Regions from separate parts of the Homo sapiens genome. Here region 2 is linked to region 1. The links come from fine-mapping of genetic effects on gene expression. A gene starts in region 1. The other region holds a variant in brackets. All regions are shown on one strand. Distances are between the middles of the regions.

Region 1 (8,327 bases):
AAGCAAAAAGGAGGAAGGAAGGAAAAACTTTAGTTAGTTCTGCTGGACTGAATTGATGTCTCCCAGCCAAAAAGTGAGAAAGCTTTACAGTAAGCCTGCTGAAAGAAAGAAAAAAAAAACCCATGTACACATACATATCAAATGAGATGCCAAAAAATGACATTAGTATTAGGGGTGCCATTTGAGTTGATGAAAAAAAATTAACTCCTTTATATCTGTATGTAGCTGGGAATAGTGTAGGCTTTTAGAAACTAGCAGGAAAAAAGAAGGAGATACTTTAAACTAGGAATGGTTTGTAGCCAAATCAATTGATAAAAGAAGGAAAAAGATGGCACAACTAAAATTGATGCCAAAGATTTATAAGGTTGACTAAATAAAAATGAATGGATCACCATGGAAATGCATGAATACTGAAATAGGCAAGATTTGAATAGACTAATGATGTGCCTCACTTAAACTGACAGGTGTTGATAACAACGGTGACACTCAATCCACACCAACCGCCACACTTCCAACATGTTTATTCCTAGAAAACAGGCTGGATTTAGAGGTTCCTTTGGTAATAGTTTATAAGCAAAATGCATTTTCCGGTCTTAAAGTGACTGACTCAATGCTCATCTACTGGAAAAACAAAAAAAAGGTTTTTATCCATTTTGTTCCTAGATATGAGGAGCTGCAGTTAGCAAAAGTCATTCTCCTGGGCTCTACTAGTCTTTGTTTCAATAAACCTCCCACAAACCTGAATTCTCAGTCTTGCTTGTCTCCCACACTGAGTACTTGAAGTATGACCACCACTCATTAGAAACATAATTAAAAAGACACAACACTAGATCCCCACCCCCCATCACATTCAGATGAAAACCAATAACCCTTAATCTATTTGTTACCATGGCTACCATAGGATATTTTATTTCAGTAAAACTCTAGGTATTTCGTTTGGATTGCTGCTTGCAAATGAAAGTTGGAGACCTATAAATTTCCATAACCGAGAGACCGAGGAGAAGAAAATGTTTTTCTTAATCACAGGCAAATATGGTTTATAAGATGTTTGTGCAGAAAAGTTATTAAAATTGGTTAGATGCATCAGCCCATAAACCAATTTAAATGCCATTAAATTCATATAGAGTTTAAAAGGCACATGTGCTAGTAATTCCCTGATTTATAGCAGGGTGATAAATCAAGTGCACTCCAGCACAATGTATGGGACGGAGACTATTCATCAGTAGCACACAGCTCCATACCTGTATAAACACCTAGATTATGGACTAATCAAATACACGCATGCCAACCAGCCTTTAAAGTATTCACTAGTGCTTACTGGACATGTTTTCTCTAAGTGTCGGAAAGAACAATCTATAAAATTGTTCATTCTCCTCCCTCACAAAAAAATTAAAAAGCTCTATACCTTCTTTCCATAATAATAATAATAATAATAATAATAATAATAATAATAATAAATCAGGAATGAGGTGGGACAAGTCTGCTGTCATTCATCTGAAAATGAAGCAATTCCTCAAATCTGCCCTCCCAGGGCTGAGTTAGTGATAAGACCACACGGCGAGGAAGAAACTCTGTAGTGACTAGACAGATGACTTTAAAGAGACTGAAACTAGTATAAATACAGCCGTAACCAGGACAGATCTGTCATTGCAAGAGGAGTCCGAATCCCAGCGTTGCTGGACTGGAGAGAGGCTGGAACCTGCAGCAGCGGGCCGGGATGCCGCTGAGCTGCCGAAGTGGAAGTTTCGCAGGCAGCAGCAGCTCGGCGTCCTCCACGGTCTGGTCCCTCCAGCGCCGAGGTCTCGCCTAATGCTACATAAATACCTGCGTCCACGATTCGCCCGGGGCGCGCCGCGGCGCAAGCACGGGAGGGAGGGAGGAGAACGTTTGCAGAGCGGCGGGGATGGCAGCGGCGGCGGCGGCAGCTCCTTACCCATCAGCATCTCTGGGGGCCCGCGCGAGGGCCCGCCAACGGACCGCGTCTGCCGCTTGGTTCCACAGCCCAGGGACGACAACTGGCTTCTCAGCGGGTGGACCCAGGCATCCGAGACTCGCGCGTGGCCGCCACCCCCTCCTCCGAGACGGCTGGCCGCAGGCAGGCAGCGCGTCCCCGCCTTCCCCAGGCAACGCAGAGGCGACCTGCCCTAAGAGCCACCTCCGACCTACCCCGGCTCCCAGCCCCGCGCTCCGGCCCCAGGCGAGCACGTCCCTCCCTTGGGGCCCGGGGCCGACGCTGCCCAGCGCGGGCACCCGCGCGGCGACCGCAGATAACCCTAGCGCTCTCAGCCCGCTCCAGGCCACGGAGACCGGGACGCGAGCCCTGGGCTCCCCCGGCCCCCCGAGGCCATCGGGGCGCGCGTTCACACTCCCACACTACACATCTCCAGGTCCACCCTGTCCCACACATCAACAACCCCTCCCCAACGACACCACCTCCTGGCCGCTTCGCCGTCCCCGTGAGCTCTCCTTTCCGCGTCCCCCCACAACACGCTGGCACCCACAAGGTGTCAAGGGAAGTGTGCGTGTGTGTGTCGGGGTGGGGTGGGTCACAATAAGGTCTGTGCGGGTTCCCTCCCGACGGTTTTCGAGCTCATCTACCTCGAAAGTTACTTGGGATTGAGTAAAGAGACCCAGTCCCCAAATGCGAGATCAGAGGACGCGAGGGGCAGAAAACCCCAACCTGGCTTCTCGCTGCACAGAGGCGCGCACCTCCCCAAAGGACAGTGCGCGCGGCCGCCCCTGGGGGCCAGCCCTCCGTCGCCTCCAGGTCTCCTGCCCGGCCGGGGCCCTGGGCCGCTCAGGGGAACGTGGCCTGGAGAGGGGCGCGCGCCGCCGGGCCCAGCAGGGGGGCTGCTCCGGCCAGGGGTCACACAAGCCTCCAGCACCTCCGAACACCGTGACAGTGGCCCCAGGCAGCCCCGGTGCATACACACCCGGGGGCAGGAAGTTTTTTCCCCCCCTTTTTTTCCCCCTGGAGCAGCGCAGGCGCAAGGGCTCCTGCAGCCTGCGAGTCCAGACGCGGGAGGCTCCTGTCGCCGCCGCCGCCGCCGAAGCCGAGCCCAGGGTTCCGGGTTCCGGCCCCGCTCCCACGCCCGGCCCGGCCCGGCCCCACGCGGCGGCCAGGACCTGGGTCTCCCTCCGGCGCCGCATCCGAGGCGCTCCAGCCCGGCCCGGCTCTTACCTCCGGCGCGCGGCTCCGGCCCCGGCCCGACGCGCAGAGAGCCCGGGGTCGCGGGTGGGCGCAGGAGGGCTGATGGAGAGCGGACAGCGCCGGCGGGTAGCGGTGGCTGGGGCCGCTCGGGTCCTGGCCGGAGGAAACGGATCCAGGTCCTCCTCCTCGCGTTCCTGCTCTCCGCCTTCTCCCCTCGTTCCTCCTCCTCCTCCGCCGCCGCCGCCTCCCGGCAGCCCAGGGAGGATGCCCGGGAGAGGGAAGTCGGTCCTCCTGCCTGTCAGCCTGTGCGGCTATGAGCGGTGCGGCGCGGCTCTCATCGAGGCGGCGGCGGCGGCGGCGGCTCCGGCAGCATCGCCCCCGCCCTCTCCCCGCAGCCGCGGCGGCCGCGGGGCTGGGGCTGGCTCCGGGCTCGCGGCTCGGGCTCCGGGCGGGGGCTGCGCTCAAGCGCGGCGACCGCCGGGGCTGCGGACGGGCGCTGCGGAGCCGGGGCCGGGGCTGGAGCTGCGGCGAGATCCGCGGTGGCGGGGACGGCGGCGGCGGCGCGGGGGCTGGCGCGGCCGCGGCGCGGGGACCATGCTCCCTTCTGGCTCGCTCCGCTCCGGGTACCGTCTGCTTTAGCTGCGAGGGAGGCGGGCTTCGGCGCGCAGCCAGGGGCGGGCGGAGCCAATCACGGGCGCCCGAGTGGGCGGGGGTGGCGGGTGGGGGAGGCGGGGCCCTCTGGCCCGGCCCGGCCAGGCCGGGCCCCGTGCGCAGTTTCCCCGGCCCGAGGGATTCCCGGCTGCCGCGCGCCGGGTCCGAGGTTGGAGTGCTCGCGGGTGTGTCCGTCGGTCCGTCCGTCCGCCGCCCCCGCCCCCCGCGGTGGCCCCCGGCTCGCCTGGCTCCGCGGCCGCGCCCGGCAGACGCACGGCGCGTGGCACGGGCTGCTCCGCCGTGGCCTCCTGGCCTTGCTGGCCCAGGGTTGGGGGCCCGGGACTGAGGCGAGCTCCCCGTCTGCTCTCAACACCTGAGGAAACTGGCGGAAAAGTTTGAGAAGGAAAAAGTCCAATCGTCTTTCAGCTTCCGCCCTCTTTATGACACTCCAGCCTTGGAAAGGAGCAGGAATTGTCCACACCTCTGAAGGACCAGGGAGAGCCCTGCAAAGTGTCCACCAGCCTTCTGAGTCAGCCCTGCCTCTCCTGGGGCGCGCGACTTTTCTGTTCATACTGACCCTTAGGAATCCAGGAAGCCTTCTCTGTTTAACAGCCTGACCAGCCTTTGATGTCTATACCGACTACTCACCCCCACCACAGCTCGCTCTCTCTCACACTGTCTACACTGACTTCTCAGTCCCACCACCTCTCGGTCTACACATGCTGTCTACACAGACCCTAACTTCTAACCCTAATAGAAGAGATTTGGCCAGAGGCGTGTGGGACCCCCAATGAGGGCTTTTCCATTATGCTAGAATATTTCACTCTGGGCACAGTCTTCTCCACCCCGACCGCTCTCCTAATCTGGTTTTTATTCCCCGACCTCTCCCTCCTCCCCTACATCCCCTTTACCTGGTTTTGAGTTTCAGAGGAAATATCTGTACCTGCCCTCCTCCTCCACCCCTGTCTGAATGTAAAGGCCTGAGGGCCCAATCCTCATCCTCCACCCTCCCTCCGCTCCCCCGGGTAAAGGCCTGAGGCCTGAGGCCTTGCTAGAAATTGGAGTTGGGGTGCTGTAGGTAGTGTGGGGAGCTGGCTGTGGGGGCCCAGCTGGGAGGAGCTGGCCTGGGGAGGGCTTTGCCAGTCCTTGCCTCCATCTACCAGGGCCAAGGAGGACTGAGCCGGTAAATATTTTCTTCTCAGCTCCCCCCCTGTGATGTCTGATCCAGGCCTCTGCTCTCCTTGGCTGTAAACTCAGCGCACGGATTGTGTCTTCTTTAATATTTTGTAGGAAGCAGAGTACAGTGTCGTGGCTGATAAATAATAAATAATAATAATCTACTGAGGGTAGCAGGAGCACTGTCAGAAATGGAATGAGGACGCCGGGGAAATGGCCCACTAGTGTCAGAATAACTGCATTTCCTGGAAAAAACATCCAACAGAGTTTGTGTGTGTGAAGCCCGGGACTCAAGGGAGGGGACAGAGCGGAGCACTTCAGGGAGGAAGCCACCCTTCATGAGGACGACAGCCAGGAAAACTGGCGTGACCTTAAGAGAGGGTGACAGAGGTGCCGAAAAGGGGAGCAGGAGTGGGGGGGAGGGGGAGAAAAGCTCCCCAAGGGTCCTCAGACAACACCTGAAGGTGATCGATAGCTTTGGTTTGAGTACTATGTCCTTCAAATGGTATATGAAAAGTGATAGAAGAGTACTAGATAGCAAAATGGAAAAAAGAGGGATTTCTTGGGATTTCAAATTGATACACAGGTCAACCCAATGCAAAAAGAAGGAGAACAAAGCCACAGGCGTGTGTCTGTTCATCCACGCTGTAGGAAGCTGTCCTCTGAGATAATCTCCATGGATGCACTGACTGTGAACATGCAGAAGTCCACCCAGCCGTATTCTGGAGTAGCGCCCTATGTGACAGCTGTAGGCACTACAGAAATGTGGCCAAGGTTTGCAGGGTCTGGGATAGGTTAAGATCTGGCAATGTGAGGCACTCACAGTGTCTTACAGATGATTTTGAATGATCCTCAGTTGAAAGAAGAAAATAGGAACTCCAAGAATCCTTATTCAGCTACCTCTCCAGATGAAGGAGAAAGGATGCTCCCAATTTCCCTGCTGGCAGCATCAGAAAAGAGAGCTGTGCTGAGGTCTTATCCAGAGGAGGACCTACTCGGGCCATGGTGGTGCGAAGGGCGCTGGTTCTGGGGCACCGCAAACTCTTCAGGGCTGAAGTTTGGTAACAGCTCACCAGGGGAGCCAGCTTGTCAGGGAGAATGAGAAAAGCTGTGTGAATTAGACTCCCAGTGGGCTTGTCTACCCTGTCCTCACCCATCCTCGTTTTATCCAAGGCTTCCTCGTCATTGATGCTCTGCCCTGCTGGGAGCTGTTTAGTGTGGACACAGCCATTTATGAAGGGTCTGCGCTGGTCTGCATATGAGTTCCATTTCAGAGTGCTGTTGTTCACATGATCTGTCCCAGCGCATCTAGTGTCTTGGCAACATAAACTGGATTTGCATTGTGTCAGGGGTCTCCTCTCTCTCTCTCTCTACGTAGATCTTGCTGGTGTCTGGGATCTTTTTTGGGTCATTCTTTGCTCTACTCTGTGGCCCATGGGATGGGCCCCATGACTGGCATGGATCTCTCTGTGTGGTTCATGGGACTCGTGTGTTGTGCCCAGAAACCTCTTACACCATGGTCAAAGATTTCTCCATGAAACACAGGATTGACTTGGTGGTGTGTTCTCCAAAAGCCAACCCTCCCTGTCCTGAGCCCCAATCTGGGCACTGGGATCAGGACTAATGTGTACACTCCAAGCAGATGGGTAGTGAAGGAGCGGACTCATAGTGCATAGGGAAGTGGACTGGAACACTCCAGGACATCCATTCCCCGCTCAGATCATAGACCATTATCTGTGCAGTCAATCAGACAAGGACTTGTACTGGAAAGGCCACCATCACCCAAGGAGGAACCAGAGGAAGTCACATCAGGAACACCTGGGGTGCCACATAAACCCACAGTGGCCAAGGTGGACTTCTGTCCTTGTCTGTGTTTATGATAATAGCCACAACAAAAGGACCTTTACCCAGTGGCTACTATATGTCAGGCACTGTACCAAGAACTCTACCCATGATATCTTGTTAATCCTCACAGCAACCTGTGGAATTGGTGTTATCAGCCCCCAAAACTGAGTTCCAGAGAGGGTAGATGAGAACCTGCAATCACACAGTAAGTGACAGTGCTGGAATTTCAGCCTGATTGTCCCAAAGCCTCTGTTCTTTTTACCCCACCAAACACACAAATGCAGTTTCTTTTGTCATTAGCCCAGTGCTTTTCCCTTGGAGTAGATACAGTAGATGCTGATTTTTGCCTTCATCAGCAAAAGTCTTTACCCCAGACACATAACTGGAGATCAGTCATAGAACAGAGAGCACTAATGTAGAAGGGCACAGGTCCCTTTGATTACTGAACACTCAGGTCACTCGGAAGAGTGGAAGCCTCATCAGAAACCTTCGGGTTTGACAGGACATCTGTTTCCAGGAGCACGGTGGGTGTAAACAGAGCAGCTGCCAGCCTCTGTCCTGGTTGGGGTTTTGTGTTTGCTGGTTTTTCTTTTTTTTTTTTTTTAAACACATTATACTCTATTAAAACCACCCCTATTTGGCATCAAAAGCATTAATAAATCCCACATAAGGCACAGTCCCTCCAGTGGTTAATCAATCCATAAAAATCTATTTAGCACCTACTGTGTGTCCAGCATTTCAATCCCATGACGTTGATTAAAGCAGGAAGTAAGGAGTCACAGCTGCCAAATTTTCACCATGGCCACCGTGCTCTGTGATGTGTCACAAAGGCATTTGCCAATCATGCAATCAACCATTTACTGAGAACCTGCTTTGTTGCTCAACTCTGTGCTGGCGACTCTCAGGAAGACAGGGAAGGTATAAGGCGGCTTATACGCCAATCATTTTTACCCTGCCTATTTTCCAAAAAGTGATCGAGGTTTCCTAATACAATACTTGGCTCTTGTTCTTGACAAGGGTTAAGATAACAGCAGTTGTTATCAAGAAATATAACTTCGTGCTCACCTGTGGGGAAGAGACTCTCAAGTGTTGTGGGGTTAAGGGGACGATTCCCTAAGAGCTAGGCTGGTCAGGATGCCTTCCTGGAGGAGGAAGGTCTAAGACTGGACCTGACAAGGCAGTTTCTGTGGGAGGCAGAGGGAGCCTAGACCAGGCAGAGGGGAAGGCAGGGGCCAGGAGGTCAGGGGAGGGAGGATTGCTGGATTGGAGGACTCATTACCATATGATCGTTTCTAAAACACGACTTGTTGTTAAGTCATTTCCTTTGGGTGAAAGTGAAAGTGTATTTCCTTCCCCCCTCCTCCCACCACCCCCAGCCCGCCAAATCAGTGAAATATTAGATTCTAAGAGTCAGAATGAAACCAGTGGTGTCTTTTTTTGGCATTCTCAATGGCAAGAATTCAGCACCTTTTTTTAGTACCACTTGTTTGCAGGTGGCAGGAGT
Region 2 (8,327 bases), 110 kb before region 1:
TGATTGGCAATGATCATGGCAAACATGTAAGTGGCCAAAGATAACAAAGAGAATTATAGAGCCATGGAAGGTCAGGCTACAAGTGACCTTAGTGACCTTTTAGTCCAGCCTCTCGCTCAGATGGGGCAACCGAGACACAGGCAAGGGAATGATTTGTCAAAGGTCAGAGCAACAACAGAGGCAGAGCGAGGCCCAGGCCAGCCCGGAGCAGCCATCCCCTGCCAGGTCTACTTCACAGGACAGCAGCCTCCACTCAGATCTGCCTGCCCTTGCCGTAGCCCTGTGCATTTTAATTGCTTACTCCTTTTCTTATCATGCCCTGGGGTAATTTTACAAAGGGCACAACTACGACATTCAAACAAAACACATCTATTCTCAGGTTATTTTTCCTGATGTAAATCCTTATGATTAAAGAGGAAAATACAACTGTAGGTAAGACAGGCCAAAAAAAAGAAAAAGAAAAAAGAAATATTTCAAGCTTGGCCATCCCCAACAGACCTGAGTCCTGCTAGAATTTTAGTAACCAAGCCAGTGGAGCCAGCTAGAGAGGGCTGAAAAGGGAGAGACCTAGAAGGGGCTTGGACCACACTGCAGCCTGGCTTCTTCTATCTGGAAGTGTCCGTGGTGCTTGGAGAGACAGATGCAGGGTGCGGTTGGGAACCCCACAGGTCCCCCATAAGAATGTGGAGTGGCCACCAGCATCATGGGAATAAGACACACACTGCATCTAAAGAGATCAGCAAAGTGGCCCAGTGGTGGTTTGAATCCCTGCTGACCGCCTGCGCCTAGTGACAGGTGCTGGAAGGGCCAAACACGAGGGGGATGAATTGGTCATATAGGTAGATTTGCAGGAGTTTTATTTCATGCGGGTCAGAGGATGAAGGGGCACAGGGGCCAGAGCCGTCTCTGCCCTCTGCCAGGCCCTGTGCAAGTGTCCTCCCCCTTAGGGGCCAGAAAATCTGGGGCCCCCCAAAAGGTGGGTGGTAGGTGTGGGGAGAGCTGCTGAAACACCCGACTCCCTCCCGGGAGAACCGCCCACTAGTGAGCCTCCGAGCTGCACGGCAGCGTCTCAGGAACACACTGTTCTCTTTGTTGGGGCAGAAATATGTTCGATGCTGATTATGCAGACCGATGAGTAGGCCTCTCTCTCGCTCTCTCTCCCTCTAATCTGGAGTCCTCCTGCTCGGCGGGCACAATTGCATGCAAGCGATCCCGGAAAAAGCACAGAATGAATTTTTTTGCCATCCATTGTTCTGGAGGCATTGCGAATGTCTGACATTCCAGGTGTAGAGTTGTGTAGCTGACTAGACTTCAGAAAACCTCCCGGTCTGAGCCAGGAGCACTACAACCTGTGAAGAATGTGCACCCGGCCTGGCTACACAGCAACAGCACCCGATGGGCCCAGGAGCCAGCAGGAGACCTTTCTTGGAGGAAGGAGTCTTTTTTCTTTGGTTTGAAAATGCAGGTGATGTTTTAAAATTAAAATTAAATTAAGATGCATGTTAAAAACAAACCATCAGTGGCTGCTTCTGGAGGCAGGGGGATGCCTGGGAAGGGGCACGAGGGGGCTTTCTGGGCTGATGGGAATGCTCTTTTACTTGATAGGAATGTGGGTTACACAGATGTCTGCATTTGTCAGTGCAAAACTGATTGAACCGCATGCCAAAGATCCAGGCATTTCGTTGTAGAGAAGTTACATTAAAAACAATATTTAGAGGGGACCTATAGGCTGTCAGTGGTAACAAAATCTAGATTAATGAGTTTTCCAGATAAAAACAGTAACAGTTAAAAATCAGAAACGTTTTTAGTTTTACTAGTTTGAAGGAAAACGAAAAAACAGCAGCGTTCTAAAGCTGAGTGAACAAAGAACTCCAAATTACTTCAACTCTTTTGCTGACACAGGCTCTTCAACCTGAACATCGATGATCGGGCTGAGTGATAATGGAATTAAGCATTTTGACTCCAAAGTCCTGTCCTCGATGCCCATGCTATAGGTCTATTTCCACTGCTGTCTCTCGGCCGCGGCTATCTCCCACCCTCAGGGAACGTGCCTGCACCTGTATAGCCTCTTTCCCCGGGACCAGCTGACACTACAGGGCATCTCAATTAGGTTCAATCCAATTTGTATCAGCCCCCTATTCCAAAGCAGGAATAGGGGGCTGATACCAATTGGACCCGGTCTAGCAAGGAACAGACCCTGAGATCCCAACCTGGGCTGGAAGGGAATCTGCCCGACGTGTTCACGCGGGGAAGAGTTGGGGATTTCTGATTGGAGTCCGGGCCATCAGCCACCCTGAGTCTCAGAGTGGCTCCCGTGTCCCAGATCCCTGAGATGACCCAGTTCATCCCAGGACTGACACCCTCAAACTACTGCAGGAAGTAATTTCAGCTAATCAAGCTGCTCGTCAGCTCTCCAGACTGGGCCACCACTTTCCCAGACAGCACACACAGGCCGGGAGATGCTCCGCCGCAGACAAACAGATGCGATTTCCACTTTTGTTCTCATTAAACAGTAGCATAATCATGATTTATAAAAATATTCAAATCTTAAAAAGCATGTCAAAGTGCAACCTCGTGAACTGAACTCAAAAAAGCTACTCACTCCACGTGCAGGATTTGAAATCCTGATTTCTCTTTTATAAATTGTCGCAAGGGGATGAGGAGTTAGGGAAAGTAATCGGTTTTTAAAACTCTTTTCTTGGAAATAGTAAATTATGTTTCCAAACTCAAAATAGTCCAGTTTTTTTATAAACCTAAAAATCAACTTCCAAAGCTCCAAACAGGTTTTTAAATCAGAGAAACAGTGTTTAAAGTGGCTTCAGAGTCACAGTTGGTTGCCCATCACATATGCATCATGTCACTGCTATCAGGAGCTTGTCTGTTTCTCCATCCTTCTGCTGGGGAAGACAGGAGATGGCCAGGTGGGTGTCTCTACATATCAAGGGCAGTTTTCCTAACATTGGTCTTGACTTCTAGACCTACAAAACTAGGATCTAATAAAATGATACCAAGTGGTATGCAAATTCCTAAGGTTTAAACATAGCACATACACACCAAAATAAATGGAAATTCTAACAATTAAACTTTCTCCACGGCTTCCGATCACTTATCTGTTTGTTCTGACTCCTGAAGAGCCCTCTGTACTCCTTCCAGACATCTCAAGGCGCAGTCAAGTCTCCCTCTTCCATGAAGCCCTCCTGGACTCCCTACCTTCTGCACACCAGTGTTTGACACGAACGCACCACTGTGTCCTTCCTTGCTAAGGCACTGTCTGAATATCCTGCTGTTCCCTTCCAGACCATGCTGGGAAGGGCTGGGGAGAATATCTACTTTAGAGCAGAGATGTTTTCATTCACTGTTATCTTGCTGGCGGACAGCACAGGGCCTGCTGTACAGTTGGTACCAATACATATTTACAGGTCTAAGGAGGGTCATACGTAAATTAATTATCCTCACAACGCTAAAACCAAAGCAAATGCACTTAAATAAACCAATAACCTTCTATCCTAAAAAAAGCCAACACCTCCTACTCCTCTGTTCCCACCCATCTCAGCCAGTGGACAAAGACTATTTCTAGAGAATGCGCCTCAAATATTAAGGTTGAAGCGTCCTAAGCAGTCCATGGAGGAAGATGTGTCATAAACACAGCAGCTGCGCTGTTCCGCCCCACTCCTCCCTCATCTCCTGAGAGACTGCCCTGGGGTCTGGCAGACTCTGGATCTCCAAGTCATGCTTTACTTTCTCTGGGTGGGGGCCGACAGTGCTG[T/C]CTCTGTGTGCCCAAGGGGCTGAAGACCTTTCTCCTCTTCCCGCCTCAAACTTGTTCCAGCCATCCCTTTTCTCCTTAGCCTCATTGCCCAACTCTGAGAAGTGCAATTGCTGAAATCAGACGGTGATTCCGATTACTCCATAGCTACCCTAGAGCCAGGGAACGTCACCAAGTCACCTAAAGCCCAGCCACTGCTTGAGTCTGACAGCTCTGGAGCAAGAACATAAGTATCTATTCAGGTAGTCCTGCCTCACACCCACAGAAGCCAGGTATTTTCAATGCAATGTTGATCCAGTTGCCCTAATCTGTCCATTTCCTGTAAGCAGTGGTAGCTGGCCCCTCAATTTCCTCTCCAGTCACCCCAAAGAAGGGAGAGGTAGGGCTGCTCTAAACCATTCCACTGTCTGGCCTACAAGAAATCCCACCAGCATGGGCAGGAGGAGTGAGCCCTGAGCAGCCAGAAATCAAATGGAAACTGAGTACCCAGGCCTGGCTTCAGTGAGTATGCCAAAAAATCCAAAAATAATAAAGTCTTGCGAAACCATTTCCTCAGGCAGCTGCAGGAGAGGAAACTTCATGCAGCAAGAGAGAAAAGGGCTTTAGGGAAAACCTGGTAAGATTCCTCCTATGCCTAATATTTAATACAATTCTTATGGCCACGAAAGGAAACGTGATCGGTCGCAGGGACATCTGTAAGCGTTCAGCCATTCGGTCTGATTTTCAGGATAATTTCTCTCTGAGAGCTCCGTAGGCTCTGTCACTTTCAGCAATGGAAAGAGACACAGTGACAGGTCGCCCAGTCTTGGGAGGCATAGGGGCGGCCTCACCCAGGTTCTGCCTTGAATCTTCTAAGGTTACACTGTCCAATATGGTAGCTACTCGTCAATGTGACTATTTCAATTAACATTAATTTAGCTTAAATAGAATTCACAATTCAGTTCCCCAGTCACACGTGCCACATTCTAAGTGTTCAACAGCACTTGCCAGCACAGTATAGGACATCTGCATTACTGCAGAATTCTCAGTGTGGAAGGAAGCCCCGACCTTCCTAAATGTCCTAACGAAGGCGCTGAGAAAGCTGGGTGTTGGTCAGGGCAGGACTAAGTTCTTCCAGTCTGCTCCCCAACCCCGAAAACCTTCCTGAGCCTCAGCAGAGGGGCTTCCTTTGGCCCCAAAGGCCTGGAGCTCCCTGCTTGGCAGGGAGGGCAGGGCGAGGCCCCCAGGTAGTAGTCTCCTGCCTGATCGGGTGTTTGTTCTGATTTGTCACAGCCAGCTGGATGTCAGGGCACCTCACTGGTGCCGCAGCCTCCAGCCCACTCGGTATGGAGGCCAAGGTAGAGACAGCAGAATGGAGTCTACACTGGCACTTCAGAGAAAACAGATTTACTGCTGCTCATATCTCAGACTTCTTGATTTTCGGGGAATTCTTGCCTGCTTTCCTGGTGATGAGTTCTACATCCAAAACAAACAAACCTACCCTGCCCAATATATGAATAGGATGGTGTTCACTGTCAGTGTATAGGATAATATTATATTGTATGCTGGAAGTTTGCTAAGAGTAGATTTTGGTGCTTTTTTCACACACAGAAAAGGGTAACTAGGTGAGATGATGGATATGTTAAGTCACTTAACTATAATAACCATTTCACTATCTATAAGTTTATCAAAACATTGTGCTGCACACCTTAAATTAAAAAAGAAAAATCCTAGGATTCTGGCCAGAAATCTTGAGTCAGCCCTTCCCGTAGTTCCAGACAGATCTCTGTCTCCTTGAATACTTTCTACCCGGTGCTCCTGTAATACAGGCTGTCTTTCAGAACGGCATCCATACGGTTGGTTTCCCCTGACTTCAGTGCTGAGGCCCACTCGACACCTCCAGCTCACAGCTCAGTGCCCCTCAGGTCACATGCACGCACCAGCCTCAGGCCACCCTCTCTCTTGGCCCAGCTGGAATATTCCCCTCTCCTCCAAAGAGCTTAAGGCTATATTCCTTTAGGAGGCAGGGAAAGATGCTCCTGGGCTAATGAACCTTCCCTGGCTCTCCCAGCCCTTTGCTCCCTCCCTTCCCTAAATCCCTACAAAACTTTTAGGCTTGGCCCTGCCTCTCTGGGTGGAGGTGAGTTGGAGTCCATTTCTGTGATCTCCGTGCTCGGCCCAAAGGAGGCTTGGCTCATCTTGACCAAATGATTATTGCACCGTCTCCCCCAGCAGTCCTGTGCAACTAAAACGGGGTAACAGGGTCCAGGTATGTGGAACTCCAGAGCACGTGCACTGCTAGAGGGAGGGGCTGAGTGACTGCCCAACCCCAGGAAACCCTCGGCTCCCTGCTGTGGTGCTCTAGTCATGGAGGGACAGAGGAAGGAAAGAGAACCACATGGGCAGCCACAAAACCACAGAGAGATTGCCAAGGAGGAAAACAAAAAAGGAGTCACTTACTTTCATCCCGTTTTCAAGTAATCGCAGTTGCCAAGAAAGCAACCAACCCAGCGGAAATACCCACCGACTGAAGGCAGTCAGAAATCTCATGCCAACAGAAACAGCACTGCCTGGTAAAGGTGGCTATGATTGGACATTAAGTCATTCTAAAGGGCTCATAGTTTTTTTTTTTTTTCCTACCCTAGGAGAAACTCGTGATTCTTATATGGTTGCAGAACAAATATAACTGTGACTTATGTTTCTCAATTTACAGAATTGATTTCATGCGCTTTTGACAGGAATATGATATTTCTGACAATTGCAATTCTTCTTGACGCTGCAGTGTTTGGAGGGCAAATGTCCCATATGCCACACTCCCTGATTTGTTTTTAGGGCCTTCCAGGTATGTGAGAGACTCTCACAGAAATGCAAATGGATGGTATGTATGGATGCAGAAGTCTGAGTCCCTGGGTCTGCATTCAGTAAATAACTTTCCCCCAAGCATTGCCACAGAAGTCAGGGGAAGAGGAAGCATGCCAGAGAAATTTCCAAAGCAGAGACAGCGGTGGTCCCTGGGCCCCCTAGGGCAGCTCTGGCCCCTCTTGCAAATCTGGAGGCCACTGAGGCCTTGCTTCCTGCCCAGGCTGCACTGCCTCCCCTCCCTCCACCGCTGGCCCCGCTGAAGGTTAGAGGGGGTGCTGCTGCTGCACACTGGCGGGGTACCCTTTTTGGGGGAAAACATATCTTTCCGGTGGGAGCAGGATGGGGGAGAGGGAGGAGGTACCAGGGCTGTGCTCTTTCTGCATACCCCTTTCCAAATTTAAGAGGACCTGGAATGAATGGAGCAGGAAAACAGGCAGTTTCAATAGTCTGGTGATGTTTCAGCTCTTAAGTTCAGAGGTGGGATGGATCATGTGTGTTCATTTCATTGTTGTCATACAACTTATCTAAATGTTACATATCTTATTCTGAAAATACCATATTACATAAAAAATTATAAGTGGTATCCAGGGCTGTCTCGTGTCTAAGGATGCAAAACCAAATTTCTAAGATCAGTTTGGCTCCAGGAACAGCTGATATCCCACTGCTGCAGCGGGTAAGCCGGAGTCCTCTTTGGAACCCAGTGAGCCCCTCTCGTGCCCCCTGAGACTGAGCAGTGCCGTCCGGGCACTGTGAAGGACACACGGGTGGCCATGTTGAAAAGACAGTTCATCTGAGGTCATGCCATAGGTGACTGGCTGCAGCTCGGGCTGAGGGAGGAGCAGAGCGGCGCTGGCCAATTCGGCAGCAACTCCAGGATTTGGTTCGTAAGTAAAAACAAGCAGTGGGGGAAGAACAGCTGGTGTTGAGTCTGGTGCTAGGATTAGTCTGCAACGCTAATCACAAGAAGTGGAAAAAATTAGGAGGTCCTGCCTGCCAAGGAGGTTTTCAAACACATGCGCGTGCTACAGTCGTGGCGGGATTAGACTCTCCCAGTGCCAACAAGGTAGGCGTCCACAGCCATGAGCCGGAGCCTGTTCTGGGGTGTCAACCCCCGGAGCCCTGGCCCTGACACGATGCCAGGAGGGGCCGTCACTCTCGCTGGAGCTGTGGGTACAGTGGAGGTGGGTACGGTGCAGGCTTGACCCCAAAGCTCCTCTGTGATGTCCTGGAGAGAAGCTGGGACCAATGGGGGCTGGGAGAATGTCCCGAGTCCCAGGGGACATGGCAGGGTTGACTGTTATACCCACTGCCACCCAGGGCAGAAGATAAAGAGTATTGTACTGGTTTAAGTGAGATGACATTTCAGACATTCATGAAAACAAATGGGAATGTCCAGCCAAACATCAGAAGACACAACCTCAACACCTCTGCTGCAAAATTATCATGTGTCCCAGAGCCAGGTAGGGGCAATGACCTGGACCCACCTCACCAAAAAGCATGGCATGGGCACCAGGATTGGGGGGCTCCATTGACTTCCCTGCCACCTGCCTGACAGCCCACAGAGGCACCTCCTAGAACGTCACTACAGGGACCACCTCCTGCAGGCCCTCACATCTTTTACCATTTCCCTTAAAAATGGGGTTTCCAGCCAGGTACAGTGATGCACGCCTGTGATCCCAGCACTCTGGGAGACTGAGATGTGAAAATTGCTTGAGGCCAGGAG

Alleles and levels. Positions count from the first base shown, and alleles are read on the strand shown. Sizes are in standard deviations (SD) of each study's normalised expression.
As copies of C replace T in region 2, the expression in pancreas of the gene that starts at base 3,783 in region 1 goes down (moderate effect, 0.43 SD a copy in GTEx).

What was found. PIP is the estimated chance that this variant, and not a neighbour inherited with it, causes the effect. A credible set is the group of variants that fine-mapping cannot tell apart.
Region 2: its variant is the best candidate, but not a certain one, in a credible set for the expression of KLHL29 in pancreas (GTEx, PIP 0.51).

Annotation. Positions count from the first base shown.
Region 1 is chr2:23,380,635-23,388,961 of GRCh38, reverse strand. KLHL29 (kelch like family member 29) reads right to left here and starts at 3,783. Exons shown (of 14, transcript NM_052920.2): 1 at 3,182-3,783. LINC02923 (long intergenic non-protein coding RNA 2923) reads left to right here and starts at 1,644. Exons shown (of 6, transcript NR_187213.1): 1 at 1,644-7,741. RefSeq lists silencers at 1,897-1,946, 2,117-2,286, 2,307-2,426, 2,667-3,526, 3,697-4,046 and 1 more and enhancers at 5,550-5,844, 8,168-8,327.
Region 2 is chr2:23,495,111-23,503,437 of GRCh38, reverse strand. All of the region lies in intron 2 of KLHL29 (kelch like family member 29), which reads right to left. LOC105374325 (a long non-coding RNA gene) reads left to right here. Exons shown (of 2, transcript XR_939831.2): 2 at 1-1,513. Among named protein-coding and RNA genes, the nearest start is that of LINC02923, 110 kb to the right of the region's middle. RefSeq lists an enhancer at 5,483-6,166. The variant T/C (reference allele first, on the strand shown) is at 3,767.